Linked DNA regions of Homo sapiens: region 1 is linked to region 2. Evidence: fine-mapped expression QTL. A gene starts in region 2. The other region holds a variant in brackets. All regions are shown on one strand. Distances are between the middles of the regions. Region 1 overlaps ARMCX5-GPRASP2 (ARMCX5-GPRASP2 readthrough). Region 2 holds the start of GPRASP1 (G protein-coupled receptor associated sorting protein 1).

The links. PIP is the estimated chance that this variant, and not a neighbour inherited with it, causes the effect.
Region 1: its variant is fine-mapped to the expression of GPRASP1 in whole blood (TOPMed, PIP 0.96).

What each region holds. Positions count from the first base shown.
Region 1 is chrX:102,872,712-102,877,943 of GRCh38, forward strand. All of the region lies in intron 13 of ARMCX5-GPRASP2 (ARMCX5-GPRASP2 readthrough), which reads left to right. The region is part of intron 4 of LINC00630 (long intergenic non-protein coding RNA 630); the gene reads left to right. Among named protein-coding and RNA genes, the nearest start is that of RAB40AL, 62 kb to the right of the region's middle. The variant G/A (reference allele first, on the strand shown) is at 3,220.
Region 2 is chrX:102,649,446-102,654,677 of GRCh38, forward strand. GPRASP1 (G protein-coupled receptor associated sorting protein 1) reads left to right here and starts at 2,038. Exons shown (of 6, transcript NM_001184727.2): 1 at 2,038-2,150; 2 at 2,242-2,288; 3 at 2,730-2,820; 4 at 3,386-3,453; 5 at 3,776-3,853; 6 at 4,135-5,232. The coding sequence starts at 4,469. All of the region lies in intron 4 of ARMCX5-GPRASP2 (ARMCX5-GPRASP2 readthrough), which reads left to right.

The sequences.
Region 1 (5,232 bases), 220 kb after region 2:
GAAGAAAGTCATTGGTAGCTTGATGGGGATGGCATTGAATGTATAAATTACCTTGGGCAGTATGGCCATTTTCACGATATTGATTCTTCCTATCCATGAGCATGGAATGTTCTTCCACTTGTTTGTATCCTCTTTTATTTCATTGAGCAGTGGTTTGTAGTTCTCCTTGAAGAGGTCCTTCACATCCCTTGTAAGTTGGATTCCTAGGTATTTTATTCTCTTTGAAGCAATTGTGAATGGGAGTTCACTCATGATTTGGCTCTCCGTTTGTCTGTTGTTGGTGTATAAGAATGCTTGTGATTTTTGTACATTGATTTTGTATCCTGAGACTTTGCTGAAGTTGCTTATCAGCTTAAGGAGATTTTGGGCTGAGACAGTGGGGTTTTCTAGATATACAATCATGTCATCTGCAAACAGGGACAATTTGACTTCCTCTTTTCCTAATTGAATACCCTTTATTTCCTTCTCCTGCCTATTGCCCTGGCCAGAACTTCCAACACTATGTTGAATAGGAGTGGTGAGAGAGGGCATCCCTGTCTTGTGCCAGTTTTCAAAGGGAATGCTTCCAGTTTTTGCCCATTCAGTATGATATTGGCTGTGGGTCTGTCATAGATAGCTCTTATTATTTTGAGATATGTCCCATCAATACCTAATTTATTGAGAGTTTTTAGCATGAAGGGTTGTTGAATTTTGTCAAAGGCCTTTTCTGCATCTATTGAGATAATCATGTGGCTTTTGTCTTTGGTTCTGTTTATATGCTGGATTACGTTTATTGATTTGCGTATATTGAACCAGCCTTGCATCCCAGGGATGAAGCCCACTTGATCATGGTGGATAAGCTTTTTGATGTGCTGCTGGATTTGGTTTGCCAGTATTTTATTGAGGATTTTTGCATCAATGTTCATCAAGGATATTGGTCTAAAATTCCCTTTTTTGGTTGTGTCTCTGCCAGGTTTTGGTATCAGGATGATGCTGGCCTCATAAAATGAGTTAGGGAGGATTCCCTCTTTTTCTATTGGTTGGAATAGTTTCAGAAGGAATGGTACCAGCTCCTCCTTGTACCTCTGGTAGAATTCGGCTGTGAATCCATCTGGTCCTGGACTTTTTTTGGTTGGTAAGCTATTGGTTATTGCCTCAATTTCAGAGCCTGTTATTGGTCTATTCACAGATTCAACTTCTTCCTGGTTTAGTCTTGGGAGGGTGTATGTGTCGAGGAATTTATCCATCTCTTCTAGATTTTCTAGTTTATTTGCATAGAGGTGTTTGTAGTATTCTCTGATGGTAATTTGTATTTCTGTGGGATCGGTGGTGATATCCCCTTTATCATTTTTTATTGTGTCTATTTGATTCTTCTCTCTTTTCTTCTTTATTAGTCTTGCTTGTGGTCTATCGATTTTGTTGATCTTTTCAAAAAACCAGCTCCTGCATTCATTAATTTTTTGAAGGGTTTTTTGTGTCTCTATTTCCTTCAGTTCTGCTCTGATTTTAGTTATTTCTTGCCTTCTGCTAGCTTTTGAATGTGTTTGCTCTTGCTTTTCTAGTTCTTTTAATTGTGACATTAGGTTGTCAATTTTGGATCTTTCCTGCTTTCTCTTGTGGGCATTTAGTGCTTTAAATTTCCCTCTACACACTGCTTTGAATGTGTCCCAGAGATTCTGGTATGTTGTGTCTTTGTTCTCGTTGGTTTCAAAGAACATCTTTATTTCTGCCTTCATTTTGTTATGTACCCAAGTAGTCATTCAGGAGCAGGTTGTTCAGTTTCCATGTAGTTGAGTGGTTTTGAGTGAGTTTCTTATTTCTGAATTCTAGTTTGATTGCACTGTGGTCTGAGAGACAGTTTGTTATAATTTCTGATCTTTTACATTTGCTGAGGAGTGCTTTACTTCCAACTATGTGGTCAATTTTGGAATAGGTGTGGTGTGGTGCTGAAAAAAATGTATATTCTGTTGATTTGGGGTGGAGAGTTCTATAGATGTCTATTAGGTCCACTTGGTGCAGAGCTGAGTTCAATTCCTGGGTATCCTTGTTGACTTTCTGTCTCGATCTGTCTAATGTTGACAGTAGGCTGTTAAAGTCTCCCATTATTATTGTGTGGGAGTCTAAGTCTCTTTGTAGGTCACTAAGGACTTGCTTTATGAATCTGGGTCCTCCTGTATTGGGTGCATATATATTTAGGATAGTTAATTCTTCTTGTTGAATTGATCCCTTTACCATTATGTAATGACCTTCTTTGTCTCTTTTGATCTTTGTTGGTTTACAGTCTGTTTTATCAGAGACTAGGATTGCAACCCCTGACTTTTTTTGTTTTCCATTTGCTTGGTAGATCTTCCTCCATCCCTTTATTTTGAGCCTATGCGTGCCTCTGCACTTGAGATGGGTTTCCTGAATACAGCACACTGATGGGTCTTGACTCTTTATCCAATTTGCCCGTCTGTGTCTTTTAATTGGAGCATTTAGCCCATTTACATTTAAAGTTAATATTGTTATGTGTGTATTTGGTCCTGTCATTATGATGTTAGCTGGTTATTTTGCTCGTTAGTTGATGCAGTTTCTTCCTAGCCTCGATGGTCTTTACATTTTGGCATGTTTTTACATTTGCTGGTACTGGTTGTTCCTTTCCATGTTTAGTGCTTCCTTCAGGAGCTCTTGTAGGGCAGGCCTGGTGCTGACAAAATCTCTCAGCATTTGCTTGTCTGTAAAGTATTTTATTTCTCTTTAACTTATGAAGCTTAGTTTGGCTGAATATGAAATTCTGGGTTGAAAATTCTTTTCTTTAAGAATGTTGAATATTGGTCCCCACTGTCTTCTGGCTTGTAGAGTTTCTGCCGAGAGATCCGCTTTTAGTCTGATGGGCTTCCCTTTGTGGGTAACTTGACCTTTCTCTCTGGCTGCCCTTAACATTTTTTCCTTCATTTCAACTTTGGTGAATCTGATGATTATGTGTCTTGGAGTTGCTCTTCTCGAGGAGTATCTTTGTGGTGTTCTCTGTATTTCCTGAATCTGAATGTTGGCCTGCCTTGCTAGATTGGGGAAGTTCTCCTGGATAATATCCTGCAGAGTGTTTTCCAACTTGGTTCCATTCTCCCCGTCAGTTTCAGGTACACCAATCAGACGTAGATTTGGTGTTTTCACATAGTCCCATATTTCTTGGTGGCTTTGTTCATTTCTTTTTATTCTTTTTTCTCTAAACTTCCCTTCTCGCTTCATTTCATTCATTTC[G/A]TCTTCCATCACTGATACCGTTTCTTCCAGTTGATCACATCAGCTCCTGAGGCTTCTGCATTCTTCACGTAGTTCTCGAGCCTTGGCTTTCAGCTCCATCAGCTCCTTTAAGGACTTCTCTGCATTGGTTATTCTAGTTATCCATTCGTCTAATTTTTTTTCAGTTTTTAACTTCTTTGCCATTCGTTTTGAATTTCCTCCCGTAACTCAGAATAGTGTGATCGTCTGAAGCCTTCTCTCAGCTCTTCAAAGTCATTTTCCATCCAGCTTTGTTCTGTTGCTGGTGAGGAGCTGTGTTCCTTTGGAGGAGGAGAGGCACTGTGCTTTTTAGAGTTTCCAGTTTTTCTACTCTGTTTTTTCCCCATCTTTGTGGTTTTATGTACTTTTGGTCTTTGATGATGGTGACGTACAGAAGGGTTTTTGGTGTGGATGTCCTTTCTGTTTGTTAGTTTTCCTTCTAACAGACAGGACCCTCAGCTGCAGGTCTGTTGGAGTTTGCTAGAGGTCCACTCCAGACCCTGGTTGCCTGGGTATCAGCAGTGGTGGCTGTAGAACAGCGGATCTTGGTGAACCCGAAATGCTGCTGCCTGATCGTTCCTCTGGAAGTTTTGTCTCAAAGGAGTACCCGGCCGTGTGAGGTGTCAGTCTGCCCCTACTTGGGGGTGCCTCCCAGTTAGGCTGCTCGGGGGTCAAGGACCCACTTGAGGAGGCAATCTGCCCATTCTCAGATCTCCAGCTGCATGCTGGGAGAACCACCACTACTCTCTTCAAAGCTGTCAGACAGGGACATTTAAGTCTGCAGAGGTTACTGCTGTCTTTTTGTTTGTCTGTGCCCTGCCCCCGGAGGTGGAGCCTACAGAGGCAGGCAGGCCTCCTTGATCTGTGGTGGGCTCCACCCAGTTCGAGCTTCCTGGCTACTTTGTTTACCTAATCAAGCCTGGGCAATGGCAGGCGCCCCTCCCCCAGCCTCGCTGCCGCCTTGCAGTTTGATCTCAGACTGCTGTGCTAGCAATCAGCGAGACTCCGTGGGCGTAGGACCCTCCGAGCCAGGTGCGTGATATAATCTCCTGGTGTGCCGTTTTTTAAGCCTGTTGGAAAAGTGCAGTATTAGGGTGGGAGTGACCCGATTTTCCAGGTGCCATCTGTCACCCCTTTCTTTGACTAGGAAAGGGAACTCCCCGACCCCTTGCGCTTCCTGAGTGAGGCAATGCCTCGCCCTGCTTCAGCTCACGCACACTGCACTGCACCCACTGTCCTGCACCCACTGTCTGGCACTCCCTGATGAGGTGAACCCAGTACCTCAGATGGAAATGCAGAAATCACCCATCTTCTGCGTCGCTCAGGCTGGGAGCTGTAGACCGGAGCTGTTCCTATTCAGCCATCTTGGCTTCCGATTCCACCATTTCTATTCAACTGAATCATGGACCCCATGAATGGAGTTTGGGGTAAGGGAATGAAATCACCATACACCCCACTTCTTCCTGTTTCCCGGGTTTTCCTGTCCCCTTGTATTACCGCCAGTCTGCATGAGAGATGTGTGTTTCCTTTGCAGTCCAAAGGGGCTTGATGAAAGCCTCATACTGTCTGCTGTTCGGGACACTGGAGCAAGAGAGACCAGAGATCTCTCTGCATATTGGTGCCAGACCCAAACCAGTAACTGTGAGATGTTCTGGGCTCAGGGGTAAGTAACTTCCCCTGCTAGCCTCTCTTGGAGAGTGCATATTTCTGTTATGTGGGAGCTTCATTGCTATGTGGTAGAGTAATGGTGAGGCACACAGAAGCAGGTAGAGATGGAGCGCCTGGTGGGTGAACCAACACCCAGGGCACAGGCTCCAGGACTTGTGCTGCCTGATCCACCTTTCTCATGGTCTAGATCTTCCCATCGTTCTATCCTCTCTCAGGGTACCTGGGATACCTGTGTACATCCCATACTATCACAAAGAGCAGGAGACAAATGAGGTGGGGAAGGGAGCAAAGACAGAGAGAGGTAGAGGTGATCCCTGGAGGGCCTGC
Region 2 (5,232 bases):
CACCAGGGATACTTCCCAAAATAATGTCTCCCTGAGATGGGGGCTGGGTCAGGTTTTCATAAGCATTGGGTATTAAGGGTATATCCTGATGGCTTTGGATCTTACAATGAGGTGATGCTGAGAGGCATGATCTGACTGGATCCTGCCATCCAGTGTCCACTTCTTAATTCAGCCCTGGTCCTAATTCAAAACACTTACATTCTCCCTCTGATTGCATGCTTGGTTCATCTGAGGATGCTCAGGTAACATGATCTGAGGGTCCCCGGCAACTGAAAGACAATGCACAACTTTGTTATATAAAAGTTAAACCAGATAGGTCTGGTGCTGCTACCCTGTAACCAGTTACCATACATGGAATGGCTTAAAATAATACCAATTTATTATTATCTTACAGTCCTGGAAGGTTGGAAATCTTCAAAGGGCTTCACCACACTAAAATCAAGATGTTGCCAGAGGAGCTATCCCTCTGGCATTTCTAGGGAAGAATCTGTTTCTTTGTCTTTTCCAGGTTCTGGAGACAGCCTGTATTTCTTGGATCTTGGCTTCCTTCCATCTTCAAAGCCAACGATGACCAGTGTAGACTTTCTATGCTGCTTCAATCTGACATGGAGTCCCTGCCTTCCACATCTAAAGTACCCTTGCAATTACATTGGCCAAGATAACCCAGAATAATCTTAAATTAAACTCAGCTGAATAGCAATCTTAATGATCCTTTGTCAGGTAATATAAAATGGTACATGTTCTGGAGAACAGGACATGGACATCTTTAGGGGACCGTTACCTGCCAAACACAATGAGGGTAGTGTCTAAATGAGTTTTCAAATGGACAACAGTAACAACATCAACTTGGTGTTTAACCACATTGCTCTGTCTGTCCCATGCAGGAAGCAGGGAAAGGAGGGGCTCAAGAGTAGAGGACGGATGTGGGGGTGAAAGAAGAGGATTCAAATGAGCCAGGTTGCTTTGTCTCGGGGAGGGGGGTGCACGGTGGGATCCTCTCCTGAGAATGACTGCTGAAACAATAGGTAGTTGTGGCAGGTGGCGGAGATCCAAGCTGGTTTGATACCAGCCACATTTCCACACTGCCAAATATCATGGCAAGAGAAGACTTGACAGGGAACCGAAGAGAAGCCAGGACCATCCCTACCTGGCGGCATCAAAGAGAGAGGACTGTTATGACCTCCTGCGGGTCCTGACAGGGAAAGGTCCTCTTTTGGGGGCAACTGTGGGGACGGTGCAATGCCAACGTGAGCCACCATTTGAAATGAGAAACAGCGGTGTGGCAGAAAGAAATGAGTCTGGTGCAGACCAGTGGTTGGTTTCCTAGGGTTAGAGGTCTAGGTCTACCTTCTTTTAGAAGAGGGGCAGTGGTGAGTCCTTGATGGGAGCCCCCTGCCCCGGAGTTCACTTAAGAGCAGGTGTACCTTCCTCCCCTGCGTGGCTCCACGAAGCTGGGAAAGAAACGCACAGGACGACCACCCTAGAACCCCGGGCCTGTCTGGACTGAAATCGCCTCTCCCCTCCCACACTGCAGTGCTGACACCCCCTCTCCCATTAACATCCAGGAAGGAGGGTGAGCAGACTAGGGAGGGGGAGAGGGCAAACACCCAGCAGTCCTTATAGGGGGGCGGTTGGGGCGGGGGTGCAGACACACCAAGGGACGGTTTGGTATCCATCCGCTGCTCCCTCCAGCGCGGCTCTTCGCGACCTCGCGATCCTGTCCTCCGCCCGGCCCCGCAGCCGCCCGCCGGTGCCATATATTATAGCAGCGCCAGAAATGTGGTGGTCGTCGCCACGTTAGGGTCCGCGGGGTCCTCCTGAGGCAGCCTGGTGCCAACCCGCAGGCCCCGGCTGGGGCTCGTCCTGGCCCCGCCCACCTCTGGGTCGGAACTATGGTGGTTCTGTGAGGGGGGGCGTCCTGCACTTTCGCGCCGTATCCCTCCGCCCCCCTTCCCGACACCCTCGCGGAGAGCGGTTCTTGCCGCATCCTGCGCAGCCCCTGCCCAGTTTGGTGCAGAGGCGTGGGGGGCGGGACTCGTCTTTGCCATTCGGATCGCTGGGAAAGCGGTGGGAATCCAACTGAAGAGCAGCCAGAGGAGAGCTGAAGAGAGGAGGGGGAGGCCGATGACCTGGGCTCTGGGCCTCTGAAGGCAAGTAGGGGTGCGTGAGGTGGGGGGCCGTGGTGTGGGGGTGGTCCGCCAGGGTGGACCGGCTGGCAACCTGCCCCCCGGACCCTGACAGCCTGGCAACGAGGAGACGATCCGTTCGGAGCCGGGCGCTAGAGAGAGGTGCGCAGTGCCCGAGATCCCTGGCTATGGGGAGGCGGTGACTGGTGCGGGCCAGGCCGGACCAAGGGCTGAGGGGCTGGCTCCAGAGGCACCGTCAGATCGTCTGGAGGAGAACCGCGCTGACCGCTTCCCAGCCAGCTTTGCAGGCGCCCGCGCGCAGCCCTCGACGGTTTCGGTACCGAGAGACGGCTGTGGGGGAGGCTCCTGCGGGAGAAATGGCCAAACGGGAGCCGTGTTGGGGGGCGCCCGGGAGGCAGTTGGGGGGCGCCTGGGGGGGCCCTCGTGGGCCAGCGTCCCAGCTCTGTGCCTAGCCCGTGGGAGGTGGGTCGCGTTCGCTGCTCCGGGCCCTGATTCCGGAAAGGGGCCTGTGGGGCCCCGTGTCCTGGGTGCTGTCCCTTCCCACAGACTCCAGGTTGATGTCAAAGTCTGTCTGCGCGGTAGGTCTGGCGTATTCTGACAGGACACAGTGAGCATCTGTAGAGGAGAGGCTTGAAATAAAGGAGGAGCACGAATATTCCCTGGATTTCTGGAGGTGTGTGGGGATGTGGGGTGGGTGCCAAACACTGGAGAACCGAATCGGGGTGGGGGACTGCGACCAGAGCAGGTCAGGCATCCAGGAGCACCTCTTAATCTTCCCCTCTCTAATGGTGTTCCAGGCGCTTCCCCCACCTTCCATCCCCATCTGCCTCCCCCACCGTCCTAAACTGGGGGCTTGAAAGGGTGAGCTTTGGAGGTAGGGGTGATGAGGGAGACATACTGACAAGTACCAATTCACGACCTGTTTTCTAGAATATGTGGCGCCCTTCCCCCATTTTCTGCTGCGCAGAGCAAGGGGATGTGGCGCACCTAGTGGTGAATCCTCAGAATTGGAGAAGGGAGTAATGAGAAGAGTATGACGTCAAGAGAAGGAGTTGTTATCTCTAGAACCTTGAAGCAGGGCCTAAACAAAACGAGAATATTCCACCAGCAAAACCCCGAATGTTGAAAGACAGATATCAATAATATGGGGATTCTTATCCTTAGCGTTGGTCTCTCTACCAAGGGCTTTACTGCCACCCCTCATTTCCTGTCTTACTTTTTCATCTGTTTGTCCATAGGCCTGCTTTAAGGCTGGCCAGTTCTGCAAGAAAGGCAAGGAGGAGGAGACTGGCTCACACCTCTGGAGGTTGGTGAGAAGGGGGAGGGGGCAATTCAGGGGACAGTTGGAGAAAGAGAGCATGGCAGGTGGCTTTGAGACCAGTGGGTGCAGACCCACTTCTACTCTGCTGGATTTGCACAGTGCCAGCATCCTTTTTATTTCTTGCAGGGGACATGAGATAGGTGTAGGTTGTGTTGTGACTCAGAAAGACCTGAGAGCAGGGACCAGGACACAGGAAACCATAGATACATTGAACCCTTGAATGGGAAGACAGATATTTGTCACAGGAGCCAGAGTGCTTGCCTATCTACCATTCTCCATTCTCTCCTGTATGTTTACTTGTCTGTAGGACCCCCTTCTGTCAGCTGTGGGGCTTGACACTACTTGAACAAGAAAAGGAGGGGGAAACTGCACCACATAAGTGAAGGTTGGTATGAGAGTGGGTATACTTTTGGGCGGGGTAGTGGAGACCAGCATGGGTCCGGGAGTGCTTAGGGTCCAATCTGGGGACTTCTTGGCCCCTCCCATTGCCGACACACTTTCCCACCATTGTTGGACCTGTTTAATAGGAGGCAGCCGGTCCAGAGAGACTTTCTCAAAGCCCAGCTGTCCCACCTAGCATTCAACATCAGTCTCACTGCATATGTCTCTGCATGGGATGACATAATTGGAAGAGACTCAAAGCCCCATTTCATTCTCTCTCCCTAGATCCACCTCCAGTGGCTGCTCTGCTGGTGGTGGGGTTGCTGCTGACAACCACCCTCAACGGGTCTGCACCCATCCAGGAAATCTCTGTCTTCCTCAAGCTTGGTTGTGCCTGTTCTACACTCTATCTGTATTATTGAATTACTGACTGAGACTGTGTTTGGGAAGGAGGCTGAGTGACTACTGGACTGGATATTGACTCTAACTCTTGTTTCCAAGCTTATATCCTCAATCACCTAAAGATCAGAGTGTGAAGAAACAAACCTGTGACAGATCTGTGGTTGAGGTTTAGACTGGGGGAGGAGTATAGTACTGGACTTTCTTTGTAACTTGTACCATGACTGGGGCAGAGATTGAGTCTGGTGCCCAGGTCAAGCCTGAAAAGAAGCCTGGGGAAGAGGTTGTAGGTGGGGCTGAGATAGAGAATGATGTCCCTCTGGTGGTCAGACCCAAGGTTAGGACCCAGGCCCAGATAATGCCTGGGGCAAGGCCCAAGAATAAGTCCAAGGTTATGCCTGGAGCAAGCACCAAAGTTGAGACAAGTGCAGTGGGTGGGGCACGCCCTAAGAGTAAGGCCAAGGCAATACCTGTTTCACGATTTAAGGAAGAAGCCCAGATGTGGGCTCAGCCCAGGTTTGGTGCTGAAAGATTGTCTAAGACAGAGAGAAACTCCCAGACCAATATCATAGCCTCTCCACTTGTCAGTACTGATTCTGTCTTGGTTGCTAAAACAAAGTACCTGTCTGAGGATAGAGAACTGGTTAATACAGACACTGAGAGCTTTCCTAGAAGGAAGGCCCATTACCAAGCAGGATTCCAGCCTTCTTTTAGGTCAAAGGAGGAGACCAATATGGGGTCCTGGTGCTGTCCTAGGCCTACATCCAAACAAGAAGCCTCTCCTAATTCTGATTTCAAATGGGTAGACAAATCTGTGAGTTCCTTGTTCTGGAGTGGAGATGAGGTCACTGCAAAATTTCATCCTGGGAATAGGGTAAAAGACAGTAACAGATCCATGCACATGGCCAATCAAGAGGCTAATACCATGTCTAGGTCCCAAACTAACCAGGAGCTCTATATTGCATCTAGTTCTGGTTCTGAGGA